2 separate regions of the Homo sapiens genome follow, and region 1 is linked to region 2. Evidence: fine-mapped expression QTL. A gene starts in region 2. The other region holds a variant in brackets. All regions are shown on one strand. Distances are between the middles of the regions.

What was found. PIP is the estimated chance that this variant, and not a neighbour inherited with it, causes the effect.
Region 1: its variant is the best candidate, but not a certain one, in a credible set for the expression of ZNF112 in esophagus muscle (GTEx, PIP 0.69).

The regions. Positions count from the first base shown.
Region 1 is chr19:44,310,545-44,313,466 of GRCh38, forward strand. No RefSeq gene overlaps it. Among named protein-coding and RNA genes, the nearest start is that of ZNF235, 7.0 kb to the left of the region's middle. The variant T/C (reference allele first, on the strand shown) is at 1,609.
Region 2 is chr19:44,355,412-44,358,333 of GRCh38, forward strand. It overlaps ZNF112 (zinc finger protein 112), which reads right to left and starts at 1,269. Exons shown (of 4, transcript NM_013380.4): 1 at 1,215-1,269. RefSeq lists an enhancer at 1,078-1,578.

The DNA of each region.
Region 1 (2,922 bases), 45 kb before region 2:
TGTATCCTTTTTTTTTTTAATAATAAAGCTGTAGTTAATAAATATAATTTTCCTGGGTTCTGTGAGTTGTTTCAGTAAATTGTTAAACCTGAGAGGTTAGTGATCAGAAGTGGTCAGCTGGTCAGAAGTGAGGGTGGCATGGAAACCCTTGAACTTGCAGTTTGGAATGAAAAAAGTCTTCTGAGCACTGTGCACTTGAACTGTGAAGTTTGACCTAACACTGAGTAATTAGTTTCAGAAGTAATTACACCACTTAATAATATGGGCTAATACCTTTACGAACCTCAGGGCAGAAAGTATTTTGTTTAGAGACAGGGTCTCATTCTGTTGCCTACCTTGGAGCGCACTGGTGAAATCATCATAGCTCACTGTAATTTTAAACTCCTGGGCTCAAGTAATCCTCCTGCTTCAGCCTCTTGAGTAGCTAGGACTACAGGCATGTACCACCATGCCTGGATCATTTTTTAACTTTTTTTTTTGGTAGAAATGAGGTCTTCCTATGTGGCCTAGGCTGGTCTCTAACTCTCAGCCTCAAGCAATCTTAATCCTCCCACCTCAGCCTTCCAAAGTGCAGAGGATTACAGGCATGACCACCTTACTTGATCAAAGTTTTCTTAATATGTGCATACCTGGGAGATATTGCAGGTTTGGGTCCAGACCACTGCAATAAAATGAGTATCTCAATAAAGTGAGTCACATGAATTTTTTGGTTTCTTATTGCACATAAAAGTTATGTTTATACTATACTGTAAACATACCATTTACCTGTGTAATAGCATTATGTCTAGTGGCTCATGCCTGTAATCCCAGCACTTTGGGAGGCCAAGACGGGTGGATCACGAGGTCAGGAGATAGAGACCATCCTGGCTAACACGGTGAAACCCCGTCTCTACTAAAAATACAAAAAAATTAGCCGGGCGTGGTGGCAGGCGCCTATAGTCCCAGCTACTCGGGAGGCTGAGGCAGGAGAATGGCGTGAACCCGGGAGGCGGAGGTTGCAGGGAGCCAAGATCGTGCCAGCCTGGGTGACAGAGTGAGACTCTGTCTCAAAAAAAAAAAAAAAAAAAAAAAAAAGCAATGTAGATACCTTAATTTAAAAATACTTTGTTGATAAAAAATGCTAACAATCATTTGAGCCTTCTGTGAGTTGTGTAATCTTTTATCTGGAGGAAGGTCTTCCCTTGATGTTTATGGCTGCTGACTGATCAGGGTGGTAGTTGCTGAAGGCTGGGGTGGCTGTGGAAATTTCTTAAAATAAGACAACAATGAAGTTTGCCCCCGTGATGGACTCTTCCTTTCATGAAAGATTTCTCTGTAGCATGTGACGGTGTTTGATAGCATTTTACCCAAAGTAGAACATCTCTCAAAATTGGAGTCAGTCTTCTCAAACCCTGCCACTGCTTTATCACCTAGGTTTACATCATATTCGAAATCCTTTGTTGTCATTTTAACAGTGGTCACAGCATCTTCACTAAAAGTAGATTCCATTTCATGAAACCACTTTCTTTGTTCATCCTTAAGAAACAACTCCTTATCCTTTCAAGTTTTATCATGAAATTGTAGCCATTTTGTCACATCTTCAGGCTCCACTTCAAATTATACTTTTCT[T/C]GATATTTCTAATACATTTGCACCACCTGAGTGCTACTGTCCATTTCAGAGTCTACTTCCCAGGGAATGCAACCCGCAACAATGCTTCTCTTTGGGCAGCAGGCTCCTTTCTCTAAAGGCTGCTAATCTTTGGTGCATCACCCAGTCAGTGCATATTTCTCTTGGTACCACGCTTAGCTAAGCTATACTTCTTCCACGTATTCTGGATTGAGAAATTGCATTTTCCACTTCTATGATATCACTGGGTATTTGTTAACTCAATTTCCCCTATTAGTAGTAATGATATTATTAGTATTAATATTTTTAAATTATAAAATCATAATCTACTATTTTCTTTTAAATAATACTAAAGATAACAGCTAAAATCTCCTTCGACCACCACAGCTGCCCAGTACTCTTCTCCATTCCCTGTCTTTAAGGTAGAGACCATTATCAGTTTAGTATCTATTCTTATGGACTCTTTTTTGTTTGTTTGTTTTATTGTATTTTTATTTATTCTGGACTCTTTATTCTGTATTTTATTTATTTATTCTGGACTCTTTTATATGTATTTAAATGTGTAGAATGTGTGTCCTTGTAAGACTTAAAGAACATCATTCATCTTACATGCTATATAATATTTTGCAAATGTGCTTATACAGTTTATATGAAAGACACAGAAATTGTTTTCAATTTTTCCACTATTACAACAAAGCTGCAATAAACGTCTCATTCATGCCCTCCTATGAGGTGTGACCATTCTCCATGGGAGAGGCAGAAAAATTGCAATTGCTAGGTCATGTGGTAAGCATATTTAAACATTTGATAGCTACTGCTAATTAATTCCTCAAAGCAATTGCACTAGTTTCCACTCCCACAAGCAGTTTATGAGAGTAGCAAATTCACCACATTTTCTTGAAAAAATTGAGACAACCTGGCAGGGTGCAGTGGTTCACACCTGTAATCCCAGCACTTTGGGAGGCCGAGGTGGGCAGATCACCTGAGGTCAGAAGTTCGAGACCAGCCTGGCCAACACGGTGAAACCCCATCTGTACTAAAAATAAAAAAGTTAGCCAGGTGTGGTGGTGCATGACGGTAATCCCAGCTACTTGGGAAGCTGAGACATGAGAATCACTTGTACCTGGGAGGTGGAGATTGCAATGAGCCGAGACCATGCCACTGCACTCCAGCCTGGGCAAGAGAGTGAGATTGTCTCAAAAAAAAAAAAAAAAGAAAGAAAAAAAAGAAAAAACTTTGACAACCTTAAGGGATAAAAATAGATCTGGCTGTAGTTTTGACTTCCCTAGTTACTAACATGGTTGGGTACCTTTACAT
Region 2 (2,922 bases):
TTTCAAATAAAATTAAATTACAGATAATTTTAAAAAATCAAAAATTCAAAGCTTATTAACCTTGCTTTCACGGTCCTCTAGTAAAATCCAAATATGTGTTCTGAAGCTGATACTAAACACATCAAGAACTAAGGCAATGGATGGAAACTATTTGAATTCAAATCCCAGCTCAGGCTCTTACCACCTGGGTGACCTAAAGATAAACCACCTATGCTCTATGTCTGTTTGCTTATCTTTAAAATGGGAATGGTGGTACCCAACCCAGGCTCAAAGGGCTCTTGTGAGGATTAAAGATGTTAATTCATATCAAACTCTTAGAATGATCAGCACTAAATGTTTAAATACTATCTTTATTACTCATGCCCAAGTACTCCCTCATCCGTTTCTGCATTTATTGAACAAATATCAGCGCATCTTCGAGCAGAATTTGCCAGTGAATGATGGAAATATCGTCTTCCCTGAAAAGAAAGGATGATAAGTACTACTCAGGTGAGACTCCGCTGCCAAGTGCCAAAGGGTCATTCCCTCCTTCTCCCTGCAGCCTTTTTCAAGAAGTCAAGGCTAAAGAAGGAAAGGAGGATGGGGGAAATCAGAACTCCTGCATGAATTACAATGGACTACCCAGACAGCCAGGAGTGATCCTGTCCTAAAGAAAAATCTCTCAGTGATCAGAAAAGGGCCAGGGATACTCTGCAGCTGGAGCTCTGACCCCATCCTGGGTTCACAGAAGCTTTCAGGGAACTGAGTCCTTCTCAGAAAATTAAAAAGTGCTAATAACAAGAGACCCATCTTCTACCACCTGTCAGGCTCTGTTCCAAGTCTTTTTATTTAACTCTCAAAAGAACTCCATTAGATAGATACTAGTACCATTTTAAAGAAAAAGAAACATAGGCAGAGAGATTAAGATACTCGCCTGTTATTATACTGCTAGGAAGTGGCAGAGCTGGTTGATGGTCAGGGGAAAGGGCTGGGGAAGTACAGAACCCAGGAGATCCCCAGTCCCTGCGATGTAGGATCTTGGACCCCCGGCGCTAAGTGGGGATGCGCCAGCTGCCCCACACTGGAGAAGGCTCATTCAAAGATAACACAAATCCCGCCCTTCGCCGCAAGTGGATTATCCTCCCCTAGAGCTACTGCCCGGTTGCTACTGGACCCCAACAAAACGAACATCAGTATGGACGGAAGGAGCAGGAAGCAGGGCGGGGAGCGCTCACCTTTCTGGGAGGAACGAAGGCCGCGGCCTAGCGTACCTGGGGCGGAAGTGGCTCTGCCTACCGAGACCTCCTGGACTACGCTTCCCAGAATTCCCGACGGGATCAGGGAGACGGCCTCAGCCTCCTAGAGCGGAAGTTACCCGACTACACGGGGCTCCCAAACTACATTTCCCAGAATTCCTAGAAAAACTCTCCACTTATCTGCCTGCCTAGGACGCAAGTACCGGGTGCCAAGCTGAGAGCCTGGATGATATTTCACATGTGCCGGTCCCAAAGGAATTCCTTAACTCCCCCTTCCTGGAACCGAAATGCTTCCAAAGACAGAGAGCTCGTATATATATTTCTCTGTTTTACCCAGCGGACCGTGCATGAAAGGCGCCTTTCCTGGCGCGTGTGTCTCTGACCCTGTGGATCTTCTGGACAATTCCCGGAATTTCTTGCAGGGTAGCACTTTCCCTTAAGTCGTCTCTTTCTCGTTTGGATAGTCAGTATTTGTATAGTCACTATTCTCTTTTGGTTAGCCATCCAATTTTATACTGCTAGTCCAGTTCTACTGCCTTCCCCCTAGAGTTTGAATTTATTTTTCTTCAAACGCGACACAAACCCAAATAAACTCAACCAAAGCGGACTTTACCTACCTACCTACCTACTTACCAAGAAAATATCCCATAAAGGAGAGAACAGAGAAGCTTGCAATACAGGAAGAAAAAAGAAAAGAATTACAGAATGGAAGCGATGTGTGCGCTAAAAATGCAGGTACTTAAAGGAAATTGGGCTGATTTGTACTGGACACCGAATTTAAGGAATACAGGATCTCAACCTTTCTTTGACTCGATTACCTTTTTATTCCATTTTGGTGTGGACGCGTCTGAAACTGATAGTGCTGCTGCTACCTACCATAATGTGTTTGTTGCAAGATCCACAAGAACGTGGATGCCAAGAATCCACAAAAAAACAGATGCAACCGTTGATGAGGCCATAAGCAGAAACAGTAAATGGTTCCCACGTTTCCTCTGCTTTAACTACTGATGATGAAATGCAAGTCATAAGGCAAATAGAAGGGCTGTACTGATACAGACAAAATGTTATTATTATGGGAAGGGATAAGTCTCTTGTAAAACCTCGAAATTTTTTTCTTCTTTGAGAAAAATCTATCACCTATTTTCACCCTGCTCTTGATATAGCAAATATTGTAAGTTGTCTTATGGAGGACAGGATGATTCAGGGAGGACGGTGAATGGGTTGACTCAATCCAGAAAAGGAAGAGGAAAATAAAAAGACATAACGACCAATCTGTGAAAATGCTCACGGGGTCAGGAGATCGAGACCATCCTGGCTAACATGGTGAAACCCCGTCTCTACAAAAAATACAAAAAATTAGCCGGGCGTGGTGGCGGGCACCTGTAGTCCCAGCTACTCGGGAGGCTGAGGCAGGAGAATGGCGTGAACCCGGGAGGCGGAGCTTGCAGTGAGCCGAGATCGCACCACTGCACTCCAGCCTGGGCAACAGAGCGAGACTCCGTCTCAAAAGAAAAAAAAAAAGACACTATTAAGAGATGAGACTATTTGATTCTTTATTTAACAACTCCTTTCCAAGGAAATGTTTCTGAAAATACATACGGTTTACATATTAAAGAGGATCAATCTGATAATAGGGGATTTTTTTTTATAAAATGAAAGGAAATTTTAAAAATAAAAGGGACAGAAT